7 linked regions of the Homo sapiens genome follow. The protein of the gene in region 6 purifies or fractionates together with the protein of the main gene of each other region. This does not show direct contact. Each region holds a gene or a part of one and is shown on either strand. Other genes may lie near its edges. The genes, in order: MAN2B1, MSLN, MST1R, ITGAV, NLRP2, NCR3 and MANBA.

Region 1 (3,500 bases), on a different chromosome or scaffold from region 6:
AAGTGCTGGGATTACAGGCGTGAGCCACTGCACCCTGCCTGGCTCCCCCGCCCTTCACTCTCCCTTCGTCCTCTGTCTCCCACACTCATGTAATCAGCAAATTTCCCTCACCACCCCTGGGCCCCAACACACCACAGACCACCCCCTCAGTGCTCTCAGTCACCCCCCACCTCCTCTCCAGGATCTCCCGGCCATTGCTGTCTGTGTAGAAGCGTCCCTTTGTCTCCAGCGGTGTGTCAAAACGGCTGATGACCTCCTTCCCCCAGGTGTCGCTGTACCCAATGGGATGGCAAGGTTGTGAGCCTTGGATAAACCCCTCTGCCCTTGCTTCCACACCCCTCTCCCAGCCTGTGCCACTCACCCCACAGGTATCGGCCCCACCGACCACTCTAGCTCCAGGTGCCGCTGTCCTGGGTACAGGCGAACCACCTGGGAACACCAAGCTGAGAAGTTCTGGTGCACCTCCTGCACCAAGGGTGTCTGCGGGCACACGGGTGAGGTGGATGTCAGTCTGTACCTGAGCAGAGGTGAGTCCTACAAATGTCCCCCAACCCTGGCCATAAACCCCATTAAGGCCTACATCAAGGTCAACCTTCAGTCACCGCCACATAATTCTTTTTTTTTTTTTTTTTTTGAGACGGAGTCTCGCTCTTTTGCCCAGGCGGGAGTGCAGTGGCGCGATCTCGGCTCACTGCAAGCTCCGCCTCCCGGGTTCACACCATTCTCCTGCCTCAGCCTCCCGAGTAGCTGGGACTACAGGCACCCGCCACCACACCCGGCTAATTTTTTGTATTTTTAGTAGAGATGGGGTTTCACCGTGTTAGCAAGGATGGTCTCGATCTCCTGACCTCGTGATCAGCCCGCCTCGGCCTCCCAAAGTGCTGGGATTACAGGCGTGAGCCACCGCGCCTGGCCCACATAATTCTTTTTTCTTTTTTTTTTTTTGAGACAGAGTTTTGCTCTTGTTGCCCAGGATGGAGTGCAGTGGCACAATCTTGCCTCACTGCAACCTCCGCCTCCTGGGTTCAAGCAATTCTCCTGCCTCAGCCTCCCGAGTAGAGGGATTGCAGGTACCTGCCACCACCCCTGGCTAATTTTTGTATTTTTAGTAGAGACGGGGTTTCTATCCATGTTGGCCAGACTTGTCTTGAACTCCTGACCTCAGATGATCTGCCTGCCTCTGCCTCGCAAAGTGCTGGGATTACAGGCGTGAGCCACTGCACCCGGCCTCTTTTTTTTTTTTTTTTTTTGAGACAGGGCATCACTATGTAGGCACCTAATCAGCAAATGCTCCCACCTGGTCTTGAACTCCTATGCTCAGCGATCCTCCTGCTTCAGTCTCCCAAAGTGCTGTGATTACAGGCATGAGCCACTGCATCTGGCTTACCACATCACTCTTGAGCGTGGCATAAACGCCTCCTGTTCACCATTGCCCCATAGAATAGGATTCTAGCTTGGCACATGGCTACCTGGGATAAAGACTATATTGTCCAGTCTTCCCTGAGGCTATCAGTAGCTGAGTGACCAGTTTGCCCCATAGAAAGTGATCCAAGTGGTGTCAACAATGTTCCTTGCCCCTGTCCCTCTGCTACTGACTCAAACACAAATGTGGCGGCTGGAGCTTCAGCAGCTATCTTGGACCATGAGGTGGAAACTGAATATTGGGGAAGGCAGAGCAACAAGATAGAAGAGGAGGTCCTGGGTGATTATGGAACCACCCCACTTTCTCTGGACTAACAGCCAGACTTTTTGTTAGAAGAAAATAATCTTCTATCTTATTCTAGTCACAGTTAATTTGGGTAACTCTGTTAGAACAGGCAAAACTATATACAGATATGCAGACATTCATCTCAAAGGGACTCACATGAAACGCGAGGCTCTTGAATGTGGACAAATGTGAGTTTTGTCATCTATGAAAGTCAAACATCAATGAGAGGCCCTGGGAAACCACTGTTCCTAGCCAGATGCACCCATAGGCATTCACCCTGAGACTCACCCAAACCCAATCAATCCAAGGGTGGACTCTCAAATATTCACTCCAGATAGAAGCTCCTCTTACTACAGACTTTGGTGAATTCTTCAAGCAGTGATATTTGGCTCTCCTGATTCATGGGCCAAGTGGGAATGCCCCACCCCCAATTTCCAAAACTAAGTATGTAAACGTCCACAGCAGATGTGAATGGCTTTGTATGATGTGTCCTATGGGGAGACTCTCATACGACCAGCTATGAATATCAATTCTATGGAAGGACCCTCAAATATTTCCCCCGCTGATCTGTGGGTCTTAGCCCACTGATCTGAAGGAAAAGTAAATCCTCCCCTACCCTCACTCTACACATGGCCCACCACCCTCTTGGGCTCCATAACTTCCCCATTCCCAACTGCCCACTCATCATTCCTAGTCCCTGACCTTCACCAGGTGGATCTGAGCCCAGCGGCTCACAGGCAGCGGTTTCTGTTGGTTGGGTCTGAAGATGTAGGCACCTGAGGCCTGGTCACTTTCGTTGTCACCTATACTGGCGTTGTACCTGGAGTTGGGGCAGGTGAGAGTCAGGTAAGGGGCCCTAGCTCCATGCCGAGCACCACCACCCCACCCTCAGGCCTGGTGATCTTCCCTTACCAGAAGAAGGTCTGGCGAACAGGCAGCAGGAGTTGCTGATTCATGTTCATAATCTCCATCAACAGCCCTGTGTCAGGATCAAACGTTGCCCGGATGTGCTGGGCAGAAAAGGGTCCACAGATGGGTTTGTGTGTGTATGTGTGTGTGTTTTCTTTTTTTAATTTTTCTTTTTTCTTTTTTTTTTTTTGAGACTGAGTCTCACTCTGTAGCCCAGGCTAGAGTACAGTGGTGCAATCTTGGCTCACTGCACCCCCCACCTCCCGGGTTCAAGTGATTCTCGTGCCTCAGCTATCCAAGTAGCTGGGATTACAGGTGCCCACCACCCCGCCTGGCTAATTTTCATATTTTTAGTAGAGACAGGGTTTCACCATGTTGGCCAGGCTGGTCTCAAACCCCTGAACTCAAGTGATCTGCTCACCTTGGCCTCCCAAAGTACTAGGATTACAGACATAAGCCACTGTGCCCAGCCGGATTTTTATTTTTTTTTTTTGAGACAGAAACTTGCTGTGTCGCCCAGGCTGGAGTGCAGGGGCGCAATCTCTGCTCACTACAGCCTCTGCCCCTGGGTTCCAGCAATTCTCCTGCCTCAGCCTCCTGGGTAGCTGGGATTACAGGCACATGCCACCATGCCTGGCTAATTTTTGTATTTTTAGTAGAGACGGGGTTTCGCCATGTTGGTCAGGCTGGTCTCCAACTCCTGACCTCAGGTAATCCACCCGCCTTGGCCTCCCAAAGGGCTGGGATTACAGGCGTGAGCCACTGCACCTGGCCTGGGTTTTTTGTTTTTTTTTTTTTTTTGAGACTGAGTCTCGCTCTATCGCCCAGGCTGGAGTGCAGAAAGTGGCGTGATCTTGGCTCACTGCAACCTCCGCCTCCCGGG
Region 2 (2,814 bases), on a different chromosome or scaffold from region 6:
TCTGCCCCTCAGCCCTTCCCAATCTCATGCCACATGACCCCCGAGCCGGACGGTCACCTGAGGACTCATTTCGTGCCCTTTGTTGACTTCAAGCAAAGCCTTCAGGGTCTCCAGGGACGTCACATTCCACTTGCGAATGTCCTCAGGGCTCATCTTGAGGAAGAGGTAGCCCAGGTGCTGGATCACAGACTCGGGGTAACCTTGTGGGTAGAGCTGCAGGCCAAGAGACCAGGAGGGCCCATGTCACTCCCAGAGGGGCTGGGGATGGCTTGGACACAGCAGGCCGGTGGGAACTTGAGTCATGAACTACCTCATCCAGTTTATGCTTTAGGACGTCCAGCTGCTCGTAGGTGAAGGGGATGGCGTTCACGCGGTCCATCTGGGTGGCCAGCAGGGCCGCATCCACGCAGGCTTCCAGCTCCCACTTCTTGTAGAAGATGAGGCTCTCGTCTATCTCGCGGGCCTTCTTGCCTGAAGGACAGGCTGTCTCTGCAGGGCACAGGGGTCAGGGGTCAGGGCCGGAGTTCGTTTGACCCCTTCTTCCTCCCACACCTCCTGTGAGATGAGACCTCGGGCCATTTGTGACCCTCCCTGTGCCTCAGTTTACCCACTGGCAAACAGGGATTCTGTCCACTCTCTGTGATTATAATGGGATGTGCTGCAGAGCCAGGGAGGGGCAGGTGAGACCCTAAAGTGATGCCCACCCCCAGGGGTGCTGCCCAGCCTGGTGCCAGACTGCGCAGGGCACGGCACTCACTCTCCACTTCCCGCCGGAACCGCGGCCGGAGGATGGTCCGTTCAGGCTGCCGCCAGGATGGGTCCCGAGAGGAGCGTTGCCGCCACGCGGCCACGATGCCCTGAGGACGAGCAGGACCTGGGCTGAGCCTCGGGTGGCCGGGCATCCCCACGGGCTGGGGATTGGGGTCTCACCTGCGGGATGCTGCGGATGATGGGCTGGCCCAGCACGGGCAGCAGGCCCCGCAGAGCGTCCATCGTGGAGACAGACCATGTCGACGGGGGGCTGTGCAGACACGGGACACAGCTCAGGGACCCCCCACGTGCAGCCCCAGAGAGGGAAGAGGCCAGGCCGTACCCCCTGGCTGTGGAGGGGACGCTGGGGGCATTGGCAGGGGTGGTGGCGGGGGTGACTGACCCTGGGCCTTGAGGCATGGCCGCAAGTGTCCTCACGCTGCTGATACCACGCCGCCAGGTGAGCCTTCGAGGTTCCAGACACCTTCACTTACCCGTAGGGGGGTCCCCCGCCCTGCAGAGCCGCCCTGGCTGCCTCCTGCTGGTCCTGGTCCAGGGGTCCCGGGCAGCTCACCAGCCGGGGTAGCAGCACTTCGGCCGACTCGGCCACAAAGCGCCCAGGCAGGTCGCAAGCCAGGCCTCCCAGAGCCCGCACATCAGCCTCGCTCAGCAGAGACCCCCGCACACCCTGCAGAGAGGCTGGCCTCAGCGCTTTTGGAACTGCCGAGCCCTCTCCGCCCCGCGCTGGCCCCAGCCCCTACCCAGCAGGCCAGAGCCGCAGGCAGCAGCCGCTGTCGCTCGGGAGCCCCCCTCGGGAGCAGGTCCACATTGGCCTTCGTGATGCGGGAGAAGAAACGGGTGCAGGCCTGGGGCCCCGAGAACGCATCTGGGCTGTGAAGAGAGGGTGCTGGGGACAGGCCGCACTGATCACACCCGTCCCCACCCTGAGAGGCAGCCCGGCCGGCCTCCACATCTCTGCTGTGGCCTGGGATCCGAGGCAAGGGGCAGGGGGTTGGGGGCTGAGGGCTGGCGGCAAAAGCCGGGGGGGTGGGTTCAGGGGGCAGGGCCTACTTGAGGAATAGCAGCAGGTCCAATGGGAGGGCGTCCAGGTCCTCGGGGGGCTCAGAGAGCCGGTGAGCCAGACAGCGCAGCTGCAGGGGCAGGGAGTCCAGCACAGAGCGTTTCGAGCCGCCACTCACATGGTGGGCCAGGGTCGCCTGGCCAGTCTGCCCACCACAACACACCCCTGCCCTGGCCACGAGAATCTGTGGAAGTGGATCTCTGGCCGCCTGCAGCGCTGCCCTGGGGGATGGGGGCTCCCGTGCCTGGCTCCGCTCCCCTTCCCCAGATCTCACCCACTCCCCCGAAAAAGATTCACCCTTGGGGCAGAGCCTGGAGGGCTGCCCACGGCGCTCCAGGAGGGGGCCCAGCACACAGCGTCATATCAGACTTGCTCCTGGGGAGCCAGCCCCTGACGTGGACAGGCACCCCAGTGGTCAGCTTGGGTGGCCAGAGGAACTCTGGGAAGAACTGGCCGGGGAGAGATGGCAGCAGGGACAGAGGGGACCGTGGTGGCAAGGTGGGCACTGCAGAGCTGCCTGTGAATTCCTCAGCCCCAGCTGTGCCCACCTGCCTCAGCCCAACTGAGACTGACCTGCTCTGTTGAGAGCTTGACATTCTTCTGTGCCAAGGCCACAGCCAGCTCCCGGACACGCTCCGTGCTCAGGCCGGACACCTCCGCACACGGGAAGCCAAGGAGTTGGCGAGGGGAGAGGCTGCAGGAAGGGTCGGGCTGGGCACCCACGATCGCCCCTCCCCTGCAATGTCCACCCAGTGCTCCCCAAGCCCCACAGCCCCACCTCTCCCCAAAGGACCCTGGTGCTCCCTGCAGACCTCCCCCCAAGACCAGGTGACGCCCTCAAGGGCCGGGAGTTGCCATCACCTGAGGGGTGTCAGTCCCTCCCGCAGTCCTGAGCCCAGTCAGATCTGAGGTGGAGCAGAGGAGGAAGGGGGAGGGGATGCTGGGGGATGGGGTGCCCTGCCCACCCTCAGTCCCGAGGGCCC
Region 3 (3,500 bases), on a different chromosome or scaffold from region 6:
GGGTGAAAGAGTGAGACTCCCTCTCAAAAAAAAAAAAAAAATAAAATAAAATAAAATAGGCTGGGGGCAGTGGCTCATGCCTGTAATCCTAGCACTTTGGGAGGCTGAGGCGGGCGGATCACCTGAGGTCAGGAGTTCGAGACCGGCCTGGCCAACATGGTGAAATCCTATCTCTACCAAAAATACTAAAAATTAGCCGGGTGTTGTGGCAGGCGCCTGTAATCCTAGCTACTCAGGAAGCTGAGACAGGAGAATCACTTGAACCCGGGAGGAGGAGGTTGCAATGAGCCGAGATCGCGCCATTGCACTCCAGCCTGGGCAACAAGAGTGAAATTCTGTCTCAAAAAAAATAATAATAATAAAATAGAATAAAAATAAAAATAAAATAAAATAAATATAATAAAACAGGCTGGGTTCGGTGGCTCATGCCTGTAATCCCAGCACTTTGGGAAGGTTAGGCAGGCAGATTGCTTGAGTCCAGGAGTTCGAGGCCAGCCTGGACAACATGATTCGAGGCCCATCTCTACAAAAAATAAACAAAAAATTAGCCAGGCATGGTGGTGCATGATTGTAATCCCAGCTACTCAGGAGGCTGAGGCAGGAGGATCACCTGAGGCTGGGGAGGTCGAGGCTGCAGTGAGCCATGATTGTGCCATTGCACTCCAGCCTGGGTAACAGAGTGAGACCCTGTCACAAAAACAAAAACAAAACCATAAATAAAACCAAAAACAAACAGCAGCCACTTGATGGCAGAGGCTACAATCTTCCTATGCCTGATTGATCCACACCAGAACCCACTGAAGACAGAACTTTTCTCATCCCCATTTTACAGATGAGCAAATGGAGGCTCAGAGAGGTTAAGTGGTATACCCAAGGTCACACAGGTTGGTGAGAAGGTTAGAGCAGTATCTGTTCCAACTGTCCCTTTAGCCCATGTCATTTTTTTTTTTTTTGAGAAGGAGTCTCGCTCTGTCGCCCAGGCTGGAGTGCAGTGGTGCAATCTTGGCTCACTGCAAGCTCCGCCTCCCGAGTTCATGCCATTCTCCTGCCTCAGCCTCCCAAGTAGCTGGGACTACAGGCGCCTGCCACCATGGCTGGCTAATATTTTTTTGTATTTTTAGTAGAGACGGGGTTTCACTGTGTTAGCCAGGACGGTCTCGATCTCCTGACCTCATGATCTGCCCGCCTCGGCCTCCCAAAGTGCTGGGATTACAGGAGTGAGCCACCACGCCTGGCCTAGCCTATGTCATCTTGAGACTCCATCTCTGCCCCAGCCCCACCTGGCCCCCACACCTTTGCCAATGACTCGGTCACTGTGGGTGACCACCCGCTCATGGGGAATCAGCACATCCTTGACCTCAGCCAAGAGCGCAGAGTCCAGGTCCCTTAGCTGGATGGACTCTTTCCGCAGCAGTGGCACACAGGATTCATCTTCACTATCGGAGAAGGATGCTCCATGGACACAAGTGGTGGAATCCAGACCATCAATGGCAGGGAGTGCTGTGGGGAGAGGGAATGAGGAGCTTGTAGGGACAGGGGGTGGCTTTAGCTTCTCATGCCTCCACTATCTCACCAAGGCCACTTCTGTAGTCAGAGCCCGAGTACAGAATAGGCAGGGGTGTGGCTCCAGCAGTCTGGTCCAGGGATGCCAGGTCATTCAGGTTGGGAGGAAGAACTGTGGAAAGAGAATCCTTGGTGGCTTGGCTTTCCAAGCTCCTAGGGGCCGACCCCTCTGGGGAGGACTTAGATCCCTAAGTCCTGGGCAGAGAGAGGATGTAGGGACTTGAAGATGCCATTGGTTGGGGGTAGGGGCTGATTAAAGGTAGGAGCAGAGAACTCACCTAGCTGCTTCCTCCGCCACCAGTAGCTGAAGACCAGTGCAGTCGCCAGTGCAGCCACAAGCAGCAGCAAAGGCAGCAGGATACCAAGGAGCGTGCTCTGTGGGACCCCATCTGGCCCTGGCCGCACCACTCTACCCAGGATATGACATTCACCATCTACGCAGACCTGGGGGCAGGTGGCAACTCAGGCCCAGCCTGTAGGCCCTCTGCCCGTGTTTCCCAGGGAGGTCCAGCTGGGCTGCCTACCTGCAATGGGGCACCATCCTGGCCAAGCTGCAGGGATGGGGGCAGGGGGCAGACAACCATGTCCCCCCGGAACTCGTGCTGGCAGCTCTCACCACCCACGGTCACGTTGATACCCACACAGTCAGCCACAGCGCCCAGCCCAATATACTGCAGAGAGGGTCATGAGGACCAGCCAGTAGGCTGGCCCCTACTTTCAGATCCCCAACTGTCCCTGCCCCTATCCCTTACACTTACCTCAAACTTAATGGCATGCTCCTCAGGCTTCAGTGGAACTAGGTTGGCACTGGGTGGATGGGGTGGGGGTAGGAAGCGAAAGCCAGGCAGTGTAAAGCCAGCAGCTCCATCCCCTCGGGCACTCAGATTCCCTGCCACCCATCCCTGGGGGTCTCGGACCACATATTCAGGAAGGCGGCACAGCTGCTGCTCTGGAAGCTGCCTCTCACACTGCTGGGACCAATATGAGAGTGATTAGCCAGGAACCCCACCTGTGATTGCTCCTCGCCTCAGCCCAGCACGAGGTTGGGCTGCAGCTCAGGGAACTCATCCAGCCTTCCTCCCTCCTGGCCAGCACTCACTCACCCTGCTTTCCACTGCCCTAAGCCCGTCATGGAATGACAGCACTAAGTGCCATGCTGAAGTTAGATGCTGGCCACAGATGGTGATGTGGGAGTTGCTGTGGAAGAGGGTAGGGTGGTAGGCTTTGGGTGTTCTCCAAAGCTGGCTCTCTCATTCCCCAGAGGCCAGAGTGGGCAAAGAGGCAGTGCTTACATGTAGCCACAGTTGGGGCTGATGCTTAGCACGACAGGGTCTTCTCTGTACTGGAAGGTCCAGGAACCAGGTACCTGGGCACCCCCCACCTGCAGGCTAAGGGGGACACTGGCCACCGTGGCCCCAGGGGGTGTGGCACATAAAAGCTGCCCCTCACTGACCCTACAGGAACAAGAGATTGGGCTCAAGGTTACCCTCTTTGTGATGGCCAGGCCCACTTCTTCCAGGGGCCTGTTGACCTCTCCCAGTTCGTCTGTTATCTCTCCCACCTGCCCCACTCCATGGTCTGTCTGAAAATAAGGTGGTCCCAGGAAGACATCCCAAGAGGGTAAGGAGGGAACAGGTTCCCCACAGCCTTGGCTGGAGCCATTGGACTCTGTGATGGGCTCTCTTGCCTCTGGGCTGAAGAGGGCAGTAGTCTTTTCTTCCTGGACCTGCTCTCCACACCACACTGACCATGTAACAAGCACTCTTCCCTCCATCCTGACAGAATCCGGGTCCCCACCTGGATAGAACCCTGCGGCCTCCCATGCCTGCCTGGTGGTACTTACCGTGCTAGCAGACACTCAGTCCCATTGACCAGCACAGCCCGGCTGGTGCCTACAGACAGACTCTGGCCTTCAAGAGTGAGACAGGTGCCTCCTG
Region 4 (2,173 bases), on a different chromosome or scaffold from region 6:
CCATAGGAATTTACGGTGGTGTATTATGCTACTTCAGTATAATTTCCCAAGCATCTCAACACTTAATTTTCTTCTTGGTACTTTTCATTTATAAAAATAGGTATTTTTATACTAGAATTGCATATGTATATTGCAACTGCATATATGCAATGACATATATACACTATAATTAAAAATTATAAAAGATGTAAATGTGCATTTTAAAAGGAATCTGATAATGTAAAAATAATAAAGGTTAGCATAATGAATTTAGAAATGTTTGTTTAGAAATAAAATAATTCTTATATTTCAGGCAAATACATATTTGCCTTTCTAAGGATGAATTTTAATGTGGTACATTTTGCTCTTTTTGTGTTTCTTTTCATCAAATAACTGACATTCAAGATTTGAAGTTTTACAGAAAGTTACCTCTGAGGTCATCCTTTTAGTGCATTATTGCTAGCTCATGTAATCAAAAAACAAAAACACGTCACAGAAAGGATAAACCCCATACACAAAAGTGGTACCATATGCTTATGTTTATTGTACAGTCACAAGTTACATGTTGTAAATCAAGCAGAACACTGTACCAGTTTTCACTAACTCAAATCAAGTTAGCAAATTACAAATTTTAGAACAGATTCATTTTCTGTCTCACCCAATGTGGGTGACCACAAAGATATTTACTTTCTATGTTATTAGGTAGCAAATTAATTTGATATACTACACAGCTTCCAAGTTACCTTAGGATATTTCAAAGTGTTTCAAAACTGGTAAAGAATAATTCATTTCCAGCCTGAAATACAATGCAGAATGGACCATTTAGGGGTAAATAACCTCACTTAATCACTCTTTCCTGCTAACAAAAATAATACAAATATTTGTTTATATTAGGCTTACTAAATTAATGACAACTTTGAAATTATCTAGATTTGGTTACATTGTTATATTGCACTTGAGAACAATGACAAAAAACATCAAAGATTCAGTACCTCTCCCAAGAAGTTCATTATATATCAGAAATTAAAATGAAATATAAGCATATATTGCATGCTGCATATTTCTATCGTTCAAACCAGCCAACCAACAAACTAAAAGGAATACTCTCCAAAACACTGAGTATTAAGTAATTTCATCTGCCTTTTTTGATCCTACAATCATTTTTCAAATTTTAGGTGTTTTTCTTTAAATTATTCATCAAACTACTACATATACAAGCTATCCAAGAATGCAAACAAGGTGACATTGAGATGGGTAGTGGCTGCACATAGGTATTCCAAGAACGACTCATTCTTCTCCACCAAGCTCATCATTACATTTTGCAACTTAGGAAGATCTGCCAACTTACAAATTCTGTTTGCCTTACAAAAATCGCTGATCTATTATATACAATACTTTTATCACACAAATCTCTCCCTTAGGGTCATGATTCACTATCAAAAATCTTTCACAGCCCTCTTAAGCCAGTAAAGTCTCTTTTATTAATACTTGAGTTTTCTTTATGGAAATGTAAGTGTTAATGAGAATTAACTATGAATAAGTAGTTTCATAACACAGGTAGAATGATGGCAATAATATTTTGACTAATTGTTTTACCTTTCAGATTCAGAATTACAGTGATAATCGTTAAGAGAAAAGAGAAACAGAAAAAATGACTCACATGTATTTTTCTCAAAATATCAATTCTGAAATAAATACCTATATAAAAATCAATATCAGTATCAATATTTCTTACCAATGTCAAATGTTTTTAATATCTTCTAGTTCATTCATGTTTTCTTAAAACTGAATCAGATCATAAAAATTTTACATTTCAAAATGGATTTTTATTCTCAATAAATCACAAATATGGTAGTATTTCAAATGTTTTAGAGATTTAAAGTTTTCATAGGGCAATTTTTTGATATTTAATCATGATAAAAAAAAATCCCACCATTTTCTTCAGAAAGTAGGCTTTCAAATTACTCTTCTCCATATTTTTGTAGATATATAAATGTTCATTTTTTGAAGGAAAATCTATGCTATTATACAAAACTATATTTCATAAAGGTAATTTAAGATATCATGTTAATTTCTAAATTACAGCATCTTTCAATCTCCAATACAAGATTACTTTCAAGATAGATGCCATAAAAGGAATAGATGGCACAAAAGCAAATTCTAACACTTTTGCCAAAGAGTGACTTTCTATCCA
Region 5 (4,225 bases), on a different chromosome or scaffold from region 6:
CAGGTTCTAAAAGTTAACCTATAAAGCGAAAACACTCTCTCATTATAGCAAAGTAGTAACACAACAATGAAAGGACAAGCATAGATCAGATAAGGAAGTGGGGAGCTACGTGGATCACCCAGGAGACAAGAAACTTCGTGAAAACTGGGCTGAATATGATAATGCAAACACACAGCCGGGCGCGGTGGCTCACGCCTGCAATCCCAGCACTTTGGGAGGCCGAGGCGGGCGGATCGTGAGGTCAGGAGATCGAGACCATCCTGGCTAACACAGTGAAACCCCGTCTCTACTAAAAATACAAAAAATTAGCCGGGCGTGGTGGCAGGTGCCTGTAGTTCCAGCTACTTGGGAGGCTGAGGCAGGAGAATCGCTTGAACCTGGGAGTGGGAGGCAGAGGTTGTGGTGAGCTGACATGGCGCCACTGCACTCCAGCCTGGGGCGACAAGAGTGAAACTGTCTCAAAAAAAAAAAAGGCTTAAAGATAACTTAGTGGTGGAGCCTGGTCTCAGGACACAGGTGTGTGGCTTTTACTTTACTGAAGCTGGCCGGGGGGCCATGGCTCACACCTGGAACCCCAAACACTTTGGGAAGCCAAGGTGGGAGGATTGCTTGGAGTTTGAGACCAGCCTGGGCAACATGGCAAAACCCTGTCTCTACAAAAAAATACAAAAAAAAAAAAAATTGTGCTGGGCATAGTGGCATGCACCTGTAGTCCCAGCTACTGAGGAGGCTGAGGTGGGAGGATCACCTGAGCCAGGGAAGTTAAGGCTGCAGTGAGCTGTGATCGCACCACTGCACTCCAGCCTGGTAAAACAAACAAAAACACAACACTGGGGGTGGTGGCTGACGCTTGCAATCCCCGCACTTTGGGAAGCTCAGGTGGGTGATCACTCCAGTCCAGAAGTTCCAGACCAGCCTGGCAACTTAAGACCCTGTCTCTATTTTAAAAACAACAGGGCCGGGTGCGGTGGCTCACGCCTGTAATCACAGCACTTTGGGAGTCCAAGGTGGGAGGATCACCTGAGGTCTGGAGCTTGAGACCAGCCTGGCCAACATAGTGAAACCCTATATCGACTAAAAATACGAAAATTAGCCAGGTTGGTGACAGGCGGCTGTAGTCCCAGCTACTTAGAAGGCTGAGGCACGAGAATTGCTTGAACCTGGGAGGTGGAAGTTGCAGTGAGCTGAGATAGCGCCACTGTACTCCAGCCTGGGAAACAGAGCTAGACTTTGTCTCAAAAAAAAAAAAAAAAAAATAGCAGTAGCAACAAAAACTTTACAGAAAGGGTATAACACCTCTTTATATGATAGCTGTGAATAGCGTGAGAATGGCAACTGGCATAGGTATTTGCATAAGACTCAGGTCCGGAAGCTGGACTAGAATGATGCTAAGAGGCTCCCTCACCTCAGTGAATAAAAAACAATACCTTCTTGTTAAGAGGACTCATTAGACACAAAACCTTAGCACTGCCCAGGACTCCACACACAGCAACCACAGCATCTGACCTGTTCCAATATATTTTTTTTTTTGGAGCTCTCTATAGCTCTATCCTAAATCCCCCAAGAGAACAGAAATAAAAGCACACACAACTATCCTCTTATGAGCCAACCTTAACTAGAGTCTCTCTAGATCTAAGCATCTGCTACTCTTTCCCCAGTCAGAACCACTGAATTTTATTTTATTTTATTTTTTGAGACAGTTTCTCTCTTGCTGCGCAGGCTGGAGAGCAATGGTATGATCTAGGCTCCCCGCAACCTCCGCTTCCCGGGTTCAAGTGATTCTCCTGCCTCAGCCTCCTGAGTAGCTAGGATTACAAGTATGCGCTACCACGCCCACCTAATTTTATATTTTTAGTAGAGATGGGGTTTCTACATGTTGGTCAGGCTGGTCTCGAACTCCCGACCTCAGGTGATCCTCCCGCCTCGGCCTCCCAAAGCGCTGCGATTACAGGCGTGAGCCACTGAGACAGGCAGAACCACTTAATTTCTAACAGAAGAAAAGATTTAGGCCGGGCGCGGTGGCACCTGCCTATAATCCCAGAATTTTGGGAGTCTGAGGCAGGAAGATCGCTTGAGCCCAGGAGTTAGAGACCAGCTTCGGCAACATATTAAGACCCTACATCTAGTGAGTCTCTGCAAACAGTGGTAATAATAATATTATTAGCCAGAACAGATGTGGTGGCACCCTCCCACGGTCCCAGCTACTTCAAAGGCTGAGGCGTGAGGACTGCTTGAACCTGAGAGGTCAAGGGTTCAGTGAGCCGAGATCCTGCCACAGCGCTCCAGCCTGGGAAACAGAGTAAGACCCTCAAAAAAGAGAAGAAAAAAAAAAAAAAAAAAAAAAAAAAGGCTGGGCGCGGTGGCTCACGCCTGTAATCCCGGCACCTTGGGAGGCCGAGGCGGACTGAGACCAGCCTGGCCAACATGGTGAAACCCCGTCTCTACTAAAAATACAAAAAAATTAGCTGGGCATAGTGGCAGGTGCCTGTAGTCTCAGCTACTCGGGAGGCTGAGGCAGGAGAATGGCCTGAACCCGGGAGGCGGAGCTTGCAGTGAGCCGAGATCGCGCCACCGCACTCCAGCCTGGGCGACAGAGCGAGACTCCGTCTCAGAAAAAAAATATATGAAATAAAAGGAGAAATTTTACCAACTGTGGAATGGAGAAATAAAGAAATGAAGTTGCAGAGCTGCCGGAGAGCTACTCACCTCCCAACACCTGGCCCTACTCGCCGGCGGAGATGAGGGCTGCAGGTTGAGAAAGCTCTAATAAGGCTTCTCTCTCGGCCGCAGCCCTGTGATTGGCCCTCGGGGCGTAATCGTTGCTGAGCACTTCCTGTATCCACCGGAATTACTGAGAGGTCTTTTGGGGGCGGGGGGTGTTGGGGGGCGGTCCTTCACCTGAGCTTCCGGATCTCCACCTGTGGTCCTCCATCTTGACTGCCTGTTAAACTTACCTATGTGGAGCCTCATTTCAAAGCACGAACGCCTAGAGATTCTGCTTGATTGGTTACACTGGGACTGCCCAGACCCTGGAGTTCTTTCGAGAGTCCCAGATAACTGTGATTGCGGCCGAGGCTGAGAATCACCGCTTAGAAGCCTCAGCTGTGATTGGCTACCTTCTCCCATCACCCCAGGTATATTATTAATAAAAATCCAACCGTATTTCAAGTGAAATATCAATGACACGTCAACTATGAGACGCATGAAAAGCACCAAGTTCATCAGTTTCACATTCACAGTATTATTATTATTTTATTTTTAATGGAGTCTTGCTCTGTTCCCCAGGCTGGAGTGCAACGGCACGATCTCGGCTCCCCGCAGCCTCCGCCTGCCGGCTTCAAGTGATTCCCCTGCCTCAGCCTCCCGAGTAGCTGAGATTACAAGCATGCGCCACAACGCCTGGTTAATTTTTGTATTTTTTTCAATAGAGACGGGGTTTTGCCATGCTGGCCAGGCTGGTCTCAAACTCCCGACCTCAGGTGATCTGCCAGCCTCAGCCTCCTAAAGTGCTGGGATTACAGGCGTGAGCCACCTACTAAAAATACAAAAAATTAGCCGGGCGTGGTGGCGGGCGCCTGTAGTCCCAGCTACTCGGGAGGCTGAGGCAGGAGAATGGCGTGAACCCGGGAGGCGGAGCTTGCAGTGAGCAGAGATCGCGCCACTGCACTCCAGCCTGGGCGACAGAGCGAGACTCCGTCTCAGAAAAAAAATATATGAAATAAAAGGAGAAATTTTACCAACTGTGGAATGGAGAAATAAAGAAATGAAGTTGCAGAGCTGCCGGAGAGCTACTCACCTCCCAACACCTGGCCCTACTCGCCGGCGGAGATGAGGGCTGCAGGTTGAGAAAGCTCTATTAAGGCTTCTTTCTCGGCCGCAGCCCTGTGATTGGCCCTCGGGGCGTAATCGTTGCTGAGCACTTCCTGTATCCACCGGAATTACTGAGAGGTCTTTTGGGGGCGGGGGGTGTTGGGGGGCGGTCCTTCACCTGAGCTTCCCGATCTCCACCTGTGGTCCTCCATCTTGACTGCCTGTTAAACTTACCTATGTGGAGCCTCATTTCAAAGCACGAACGCCTAGAGATTCTGCTTGATTGGTTACACTGGGACTGCCCAGACCCTGGAGTTCTTTCGAGAGTCCCAGATAATTGTGATTGCGGCCGAGGCTGAGAATCACCGCTTAGAAGCCTCAGCTGTGATTGGCTACCTTCTCCCATCACCCCAGG
Region 6 (3,938 bases):
TCCCAGCTTTCTCCAGGCATAGGGTGCATGGGAATAGATACTTTGGGTGCCTCATTAAACCCTTCCCTCTTAACCAATCTGATTTCTTAACATTGCTTATTAAATCATTTTTCGGCTGGGTGCAGTGGCTCACGCCTGTAATCCCAGCACTTTGGGAGGCCGAGGTGGGCGGATCACCAGGTCAGGAGATCGAGACCATCCTGGCCAACATGGTGAAACCCCGTCTCTACTAAAAAAATACAAAAATTAGCCGGGCATGGTGGTGTGCACCTGTAATCCCAGCTACTCGGGAGGCTGAGGCAGGAGAATCGCTTGAACCCGGGAGGCAGAGGTTGCAGTGAGCCAAGATTGCGCCATTGCACTCCAGCCTGGGCGACAAAGCAAGACTCCATCTCAAAAAATAAAAAATAAAAATCATTTTTCAAATTCTTCCTATACCAACTCTCACTCTCACCCTCTGCCATCATTCTCCAGCCAGTTCAGTAGTAACTTGTCTAGCTGAAATGTAAACCATCATGGTGAAATTAAGCTCATTAATGAATGCAGCTGCCTAGTTAACTAATATCACTCATTATATTATCCAGGTATTATTTTAGTACAAATGGCATTGTACAGTAAGCCATCCTTCCTCTTTTTCTTTTTTCTTTTTTTGAGATGGGGTCTTGCTCTGTTGCCCAGGCTGGAATGCAGTGGTGCAATCTTGGCTCACTGCAAACTCCGTCCCCTGGGTTCAAGCGATCCTGGTGCCTCAGCCTCCCAAGTAGCTGGGACTACAGGCACCCACCACCACGACTGGCTAATTTTTGTATTTTCAGTCGAGACAGGGTTTCACCATCTGGTCTCAAACTCCTGACCTCAAGTGATCCACCCACCTCGGACCAGGCTGGTCTCAAACTCCTGATCTCAAGTGATCCACCTGCCTCGGCCTCCCAAAGTGCACCCAGCCACTCTTGGTTTTCGTTAAAGAAAGTAACTAATTAAATCTCCAGGTGAAGACGTGGCCTTAATTGGTTGAGATTCCTATTTAACCCGTCCATGTTGATGAATTAAACCAAATATTAAAATCCCTGATTAAATTATCTACTTAGGGAAATTTACAAGTCATTCTATTTCAGTGGTTCTCAAACTTGAGTGTGTATGGAAATTACCTGGAGCATCTGCTAGAACAGATTCCTGGGCCTACCCCCCGAGTTTTTGACTCAGTAGGTCTGGAGTGGGGCCTAAGAATTTGTTCTAGGTTCCCAGAAATCCACATTTTGAGAACTCCTGCATTTAGTTAATAATATGCCTGATAGTTAAGGTCTCTCAGTTCATTAAAAACAGTTTCGGCCGGGTGCAGTGGCTCACGCCTATAATCCCAACACTTTGGAAGGCCAAGGCGAGTGGATCACCTGAGGTCAGGAGTTTGAGACCAGCCTGGCCAACATGGTGAAACCTCGTCTCTACTAAAAATACACAAGTTAGCCAGCAGTAATGGCATGCACCTGTAATCCTAGCTACTTGGGAGGCTGAGACAGGAGAATCATTTTTACCCAGGAGGTGGAGGCTGCAGTGAGCTGAGATACCGCCACTGTACTCTAGACTGGACAACAGAATGAAACTGTCTCAAAAAAAAAGTTTCACCACCAGGCGGGCGCAGTGGCTCATGCCTATAATTCCAGTAATTTGGGAGACCGAGGCAGGCAGATCACTTGAGATCAGGAGTTTGAGACCAACCTGGCCAACATAGCAAAACCCCATCTCTACTAAAAATACAAAAATGGCTGGGCGCAGTGGCTCAGGCCTGTAATCCCCGCACTTTAGGAGGCCGAGGCAGGCAGATCACCTGAGGTCAGGAGTTCAAGACCAGCCCGGCCAACATGGTAAAACCCTGTCTCTACTAAAAATACAAAAATTAGTTGGGTGTGGTGGTGCGCGCTTGTAATCCCAGCTACCTAGGAGGCTGAGGCAGGAGAATTGCTTGAATCTAGGAGGCAGAGGTTGCAGTGAGCCAAGATCATGCCACTGCACTCCAGCCTAGGTGACAGAGCAAGACTCCGTCTCAAAAAAAAAAAAAATTAGCCAGGTGTGGTCGTGCGTGCGTGTAGTCCCAGCTACTCAGGAGGCTGAGGCAGGAGAATCACCTGAACATGGGAGGCAGAGGTTGCAGTGAGCCAAAATCGCACCACGGCACTCCAGCCAGGCGACAGAGCGAGACTCAGTCTCAAAAAAAAAAAAAAAAAAGTTTCACCAAGAAATTTATCATAGATTTACTTGGATCTCTCAAACTAAAAAGCCTCACAGTGGGTGACACAGAGAGACTGTGAATTGGGGGAGTCCACTGAGTGTCACCTTTGGAGCAGTCCCACTCCTCCCTCAGAGCCGTGTGTTTCAGCCCCCACCAAGCCCGTTCCCTATAGCATCTAGTCCAGCCTCCTGGATCTCCCTCCTCCCACCCACACTCCTTGGGGTCCTGAGCGCACGCCCTGTCACCTGGATGGACCATGATCAAGATGAGCAACAGCATCCAGGCCATGTCGGAAGATGTCCCAGTTGGCGAAGGGGATCTGAGCAGTGAGGTCTGGGTGGAGGAGGAAGGACTCACTACTTGTAGCCAGGCCTTTGGTCACCAGATGGGGATGGGGAGCTTCCTATGACACACGGGACTCACACATCACTTGCCAAGGACCACAACTGCCAGGGACCTCGAGCATCAAATGCTTGCCTCCCTGAGGAGAGAGGACAGATGCTGCTGGAGGAGATGTCAGGGTCTCTAGGAGGCCAAGGGGCCAGCTTGTGGCAGGCTAGCTAAGCGTGTGAGGGGGAGGGTGGGGCTTAGATGGCTGCTAACCCAAGGGTGAGTGGGCGGTTGGGCGGGTGAGACCAGGATGTGGGTTCCCCCACCTTCCGAGGTTCAAGGAGACCAGCTTTTACCCAGAACAAGCCTCCAGGAGCCCTCCTTGGCCCAGAAGCTAACCTACTTACCCTCCCTGCTGCTCACCAGTACCCAGACCCATCCCACCCATTCCCTTCCTGGAATCTGGCCTCACTGCACCCCAGGGCTACTCCAAGATTTCTATGAGGGATTAGGAGAAGCAAGCTGATTGGTGAAGCTATATTTAATTTGCATAGCAATCACCTTGTGTGTGTGTGTGTGTGTGTGTGTGTGTGTGTGTGTGTGTGTGTGTGTGTGTTTGGTTGGGTTTTTTTGTTTTTTGTTTTTTTTTTGAGCTGGAGTCTCACTCTGTTGCCCAGGCTGGAATGCAGTGGCACAATCTCGGCTCACTGCAACCTCTGCCTCCTGGGTTCAAGCAATTCTCTTGCCTCAGCCTCCCAAGTAGCTGGGATTACAGGCGCACATCACCAAGCCCAGCTAAATTTTGTATTTTTTGTAGAGACAGGGTTTTACCATGTTGGCCAGGCTGGTCTCCAACTCCTGATCTCAAGTGATCCACCAGCCTCGCCCTCCCAAAGTGCTGGGATTCCTGTTTTGGTTTTTTGAGACAGGGTCTGGCTCTGTCTCACCCAGGCTGGAGTTCAGTGGCGCCATCACGGCTCACTGCAGCCTCAACCTCCAGGGCTCAGTTGATCCTCCCACTTCAGTCTCCTGAGTAGCTGGGACTGCAGGCGCACACCACCACACCAGGCTAATTTTTGTATTTTTTGTAGAGATGGGGTCTCCCTGTGTTGCCCAGGCCGGTATCCAACTCCTGGGCTCAAACAATCCATCCACTTAGGCCTCCCAAAGTGCATGAGTCACCATGCCTGGCGAAATGTATTTCTTAAATAATGAGACTTGAAAGTCTAAATTACTCCTTAAACCATGGACTACAGGATGGATGTTATGTTAGCAGGCAGGAAAACAACATTCAGCTGGGCGTGGTGGCTCATGCCTGTAATCCCAGCACTTTGGGAGGCTGAGGTGGGAGGATCACCTGAGGTCAGGAGTCCGAGACCAG
Region 7 (3,500 bases), on a different chromosome or scaffold from region 6:
CTAATACAGAGAGGGTGAAGGAAGGCTTTCTCTCTTTTCTTTTTCCTTTTTTTTTTTTTTTTTGACACAGGTTCTCACTCTGTTGCCCCGGGAGTCACACAATCATAGCTCACTGTAGCTTTGAACTCCTGGGCTCAAGCAATCCTCCTGCCTCAGCCTTCTGAGCAGCTGGCACTATAGGCATGTGCCACTCACCTAGCTAATTTTCTTTTTACTTTTTGTAAAGATGAGGTCTCACTTTGTTGTCCAGGTTAGTCTTGAACTCCTGGCCTCAAGCAATCCTCCAGCCTCTACCTCCCAAAGCACTGGGATTATAGGCATGAGCCACCATGCCTGGCCAAGGAATGCTTTCATTAGAAAGTGGTATCTAGCTGAGACCAGAAGGATGCCTCAGCTAAGTACAGAGGAAGATGATAAGGATTCTGGGCACAGAGAAGCATGTGAAGGCCCATGAGTGAGACAGCAATGCCATAACAAGGAAAACAAGGAACTTGGGCAATAACAAAATTGATGAGGGGGTCAGCATAATTGAAAAGTTGAGCACGGTCCAAATGACACTGGGTCTTTTCGAACAGGTAAGGAGTCTGGCAATTTCACCCCAGATCAATGCGGAGTCATTGAAGATTTTTCATCAAAGAGCATGACCAGATCTGCATTTTATAAGAATTGCTAAAGGTCCCAGCACAGTGATATACAAGGATGAATATGAAAGAAGCAGAAAGATATAAAATCTCTCTGTGTACAAAAAGCCCCAGAAAATGCCACTTGGAAAAGCCAGGAACAGAGAGGAGGCAAAGAAGAGTGTTGATCAGAAAGAAGAGAAAACAAGACCGAAGAGGAGAATTATAGGGAAAGAAGAAAGATGAGGGATGAACTTTGGGTGCAGAGTTTGGGGTTGTCAGAATGTTTCGAAGAGGTTTTGAAGTAGAGTTTTATATACGCGCAGTATGACTCTGTCCTCCATTTCCTGTCAAATTTATATTGTTTGTATAATGTCTCCGGGTTTGGTTTTGTGTTTAGTTTTTATTTTTAAACAAGATAGAGCACTGGGACAGACTTGGGACAAGAGCTGGGTGGAAAAACAGACCGTTTTTTAAAGTTACGCAGAAGAAACTGGTCATGAGATCTCAAAAAAGCTTGGAGGTACAGGGGGTTAGAGTCAGCAAAAAAAGTTCTCATTCTTTGCTGCCACAGAAAGAAAGGAGAAGAGCAGTGACTGTGCAGAGGCATTTAAGTTTCTATGATTCGTGGCAAAGTATGGAGGGAGTTCCTATTTAGTGGCTTCTATTTTTCTCCAAAGGAAGGGGAGGGGGAAGGCTACTAGCTGAGAAGTATCTTAGAGACCTTTCTCCTACAAATAAAGAAGAGATTAATAATCATGGCTTTGCTGCAAAAGAAAAAAAAAAAAGCTAGGTTTCTATGCTGATCAATGACAAAAGACGTTATAACCGGCACTGTTTACAACTGTAGGAGCACACCAGGCCTGTTCTAAAGATGACCCCAGCACAGTTTATCATTCGCATCTCCCATCAGCCAAAAGCATAGATTTGATGCACATTGAAGTAAAATTAATCCTGGACTTAAGAACTATTTTTGTTTATTAAGTGATTTATTCTGAGAAATACTAGTCGATGAGCTCTGAGTTAGGTTTGTTCTGATCCAGTTAATTTTGCAGGTTACTTACCGATAGCCTCCAGGTTTTGAATCTATCAGCTGGTAGATCACCTAGTCTGCTCGCTCACCAGTGTTTAATTTCCTCTATTCAATAGGTTGTCAAACTATGGTCTTTGGGACAAATCTAGCCCACCTCTTGTTTTTATAAATAAACTTTTATTGGAACACAGATGTTATGGACTAAATGGTGGACTCTTCCCCTAAAATTCTTATGTTGAAGCCCTAACCTCCAGCTTTTTATGAAGTAATAAGGGTGGGGCAGTAATCTGTTAGGATTGCAGCCTTATAAGAAGAGGAAGAAACAGATATCCGTCTCTCTCTCTACTATGTGAGGACATAGCAAGAAGGCATCTGTCTGCAAGCCAGGAAACGAGCCCTCACTGGAAACCAAATGGGCCAACACCTTTATCTCGGACTTCCCAGCTGCCAGAACTACGAGAAATAAACTTCTGTTATTTAAGCCACTCTGCCTATGGTATTTTCTTAGGGCAGCCAGAGCAGACTAACTTAATAGTCATGCTCATTTGTTTACTTATTGTCTTTGGTTACCTTTGCAATACAACAGTAGAGTTGAGTAGTTGTGACAGATGCCTAAACTATTTTACTATGTGATCCTTAAGAGAAAAAGTTTGCTAATCCCTGCCCTAGAATATTACCCCCAAAAAAGGCCATTCCAACCTTTCTTTAAATATCTCTAATGACAAAAAAACCTCTGCCTCACAAAATAGCCTTCCCATTTTTGCCAGGCTTGGCTATTGTAAAGACTCCCTTTACACTGAATTTGAAATATACTTCTCCTTAATATCCAACTAAAGATTTTAGCTCTGTCCTTTGAGCACCTCCTACCAACGAAGCAGGCTCCTGTGTTGTTTTCTGTTACTTCTTCTTTAGTAGGAGAATCAGCTGTTAGTGACAGCCTCTGACAGGAAAACAAATAATGCAATCCTCAAAGGTCATCGGCAAAATTCCCCAGTTTCTCTTGCTTTGAACTTGGAAGGTTCTCGAGCAAGTCCGCACTCCTCCAGAGCATCACCCGTTAACACCCCTGGGAACTACTAAATGAAAAAACTAAGGTTGTAGAATTAAAAACACAGTATGAAGATCTACAAGCCTACAAAGTTATCACCAGATATACTTAATAACATATTTTTCCCCTCTCCTCTTCTTTCAAATAGAGTAAACCCCTTCCTTCCAGTAGCACATGGAAAAGTAGGTAATTTAGGTTCACAAGGCGCAAAGTCTTAAATAACCAGTAGTTTTCCTGATGTTCTTTGGTCACTCCTTTTCACTTGCTAAATTAAATTTATAAATTGCATAATCCTATTTGTAGTTAAGAAGAACTCCATCTTATAAATTAAGCCCCATTTCTAGAATACAGCTTCCTATCATCTCTCTCCTAGCATTAATAAGTCACCATGTCTTGAAGAACACTTATCATCACCAGCTCTCCTGAAGTAAAATGCAAGATCACTTCAAAAATGGATGAAGTACTGGGGGTGAGGGCAGGAAAGAAGGATTGCTACATCTTCTAGAATCCCCTACAGAGCTCATCCTTCCAATCACACCACCAAGTTCTGCATCCTCTCTTCACTTTGACTAAACAACTCAGCACAAAGAGGACAGGAATTCTTTATCAAAACAGGTGCAAAGGCAATGCTGGCCTGCCCTCTCCACAATTCAAGGCCTTGAGGCCCTCCCTGGCCTGAAGGCTTATTGGTGTCCTCGCTGATGTCCTAAGCCCAAGCAGAAGAGATTATGTTCTACAGTTTGTTCATATAACCTCAATCAGGAAGGCAACCCAGAGGATGGTAGAGAATGTGGTTCTG

Evidence for each region.
Region 1: the proteins of NCR3 (region 6) and MAN2B1 purify together in Homo sapiens (affinity purification with mass spectrometry; one large-scale study listed by BioGRID and IntAct). This does not show direct contact.
Region 2: the proteins of NCR3 (region 6) and MSLN purify together in Homo sapiens (affinity purification with mass spectrometry; one large-scale study listed by BioGRID and IntAct). This does not show direct contact.
Region 3: the proteins of NCR3 (region 6) and MST1R purify together in Homo sapiens (affinity purification with mass spectrometry; one large-scale study listed by BioGRID and IntAct). This does not show direct contact.
Region 4: the proteins of NCR3 (region 6) and ITGAV purify together in Homo sapiens (affinity purification with mass spectrometry; one large-scale study listed by BioGRID and IntAct). This does not show direct contact.
Region 5: the proteins of NCR3 (region 6) and NLRP2 purify together in Homo sapiens (affinity purification with mass spectrometry; one large-scale study listed by BioGRID and IntAct). This does not show direct contact.
Region 7: the proteins of NCR3 (region 6) and MANBA purify together in Homo sapiens (affinity purification with mass spectrometry; one large-scale study listed by BioGRID and IntAct). This does not show direct contact.

What each region holds. Positions count from the first base shown.
Region 1 is NC_000019.10:12,649,743-12,653,242, forward strand, and holds part of MAN2B1 (lysosomal alpha-mannosidase isoform 1 precursor), read right to left. Parts: intron 2,719-3,500; coding exon 2,621-2,718; intron 2,529-2,620; coding exon 2,411-2,528; intron 481-2,410; coding exon 362-480; intron 273-361; coding exon 171-272; intron 1-170. UniProt on the Homo sapiens protein: Necessary for the catabolism of N-linked carbohydrates released during glycoprotein turnover. Cleaves all known types of alpha-mannosidic linkages.
Region 2 is NC_000016.10:763,734-766,547, reverse strand, and holds part of MSLN (mesothelin isoform 1 preproprotein), read right to left. Parts: intron 2,526-2,814; coding exon 2,405-2,525; intron 1,902-2,404; coding exon 1,822-1,901; intron 1,642-1,821; coding exon 1,512-1,641; intron 1,439-1,511; coding exon 1,245-1,438; intron 1,022-1,244; coding exon 931-1,021; intron 858-930; coding exon 758-857; intron 490-757; coding exon 311-489; intron 214-310; coding exon 58-213; intron 1-57. UniProt on the Homo sapiens protein: Membrane-anchored forms may play a role in cellular adhesion. Megakaryocyte-potentiating factor (MPF) potentiates megakaryocyte colony formation in vitro.
Region 3 is NC_000003.12:49,893,874-49,897,373, forward strand, and holds part of MST1R (macrophage-stimulating protein receptor isoform 1 preproprotein), read right to left. Parts: coding exon 3,407-3,500; intron 3,018-3,406; coding exon 2,856-3,017; intron 2,761-2,855; coding exon 2,667-2,760; intron 2,535-2,666; coding exon of another isoform or gene 2,532-2,534; coding exon 2,322-2,531; coding exon of another isoform or gene 2,247-2,321; exon of another isoform or gene 2,235-2,246; coding exon 2,088-2,234; coding exon of another isoform or gene 2,008-2,087; coding exon 1,842-2,007; intron 1,676-1,841; coding exon 1,574-1,675; intron 1,501-1,573; coding exon 1,294-1,500; intron 1-1,293. UniProt on the Homo sapiens protein: Receptor tyrosine kinase that transduces signals from the extracellular matrix into the cytoplasm by binding to MST1 ligand. Regulates many physiological processes including cell survival, migration and differentiation.
Region 4 is NC_000002.12:186,679,229-186,681,401, reverse strand, and holds the end of ITGAV (integrin alpha-V isoform 1 preproprotein), read right to left. Parts: 3' UTR 501-2,173; downstream 1-500.
Region 5 is NC_000019.10:54,964,949-54,969,173, reverse strand, and holds the start of NLRP2 (NACHT, LRR and PYD domains-containing protein 2), read right to left. Parts: upstream 2,801-4,225; 5' UTR 2,707-2,800; intron 1-2,706. UniProt on the Homo sapiens protein: Suppresses TNF- and CD40-induced NFKB1 activity at the level of the IKK complex, by inhibiting NFKBIA degradation induced by TNF. When associated with PYCARD, activates CASP1, leading to the secretion of mature pro-inflammatory cytokine IL1B.
Region 6 is NC_000006.12:31,590,207-31,594,144, forward strand, and holds the start of NCR3 (natural cytotoxicity triggering receptor 3 isoform a precursor), read right to left. Parts: upstream 2,801-3,938; 5' UTR 2,516-2,800; coding exon 2,473-2,515; intron 1-2,472. UniProt on the Homo sapiens protein: Cell membrane receptor of natural killer/NK cells that is activated by binding of extracellular ligands including BAG6 and NCR3LG1. Stimulates NK cells cytotoxicity toward neighboring cells producing these ligands.
Region 7 is NC_000004.12:102,691,469-102,694,968, forward strand, and holds part of MANBA (beta-mannosidase precursor), read right to left. Parts: intron 1-3,500.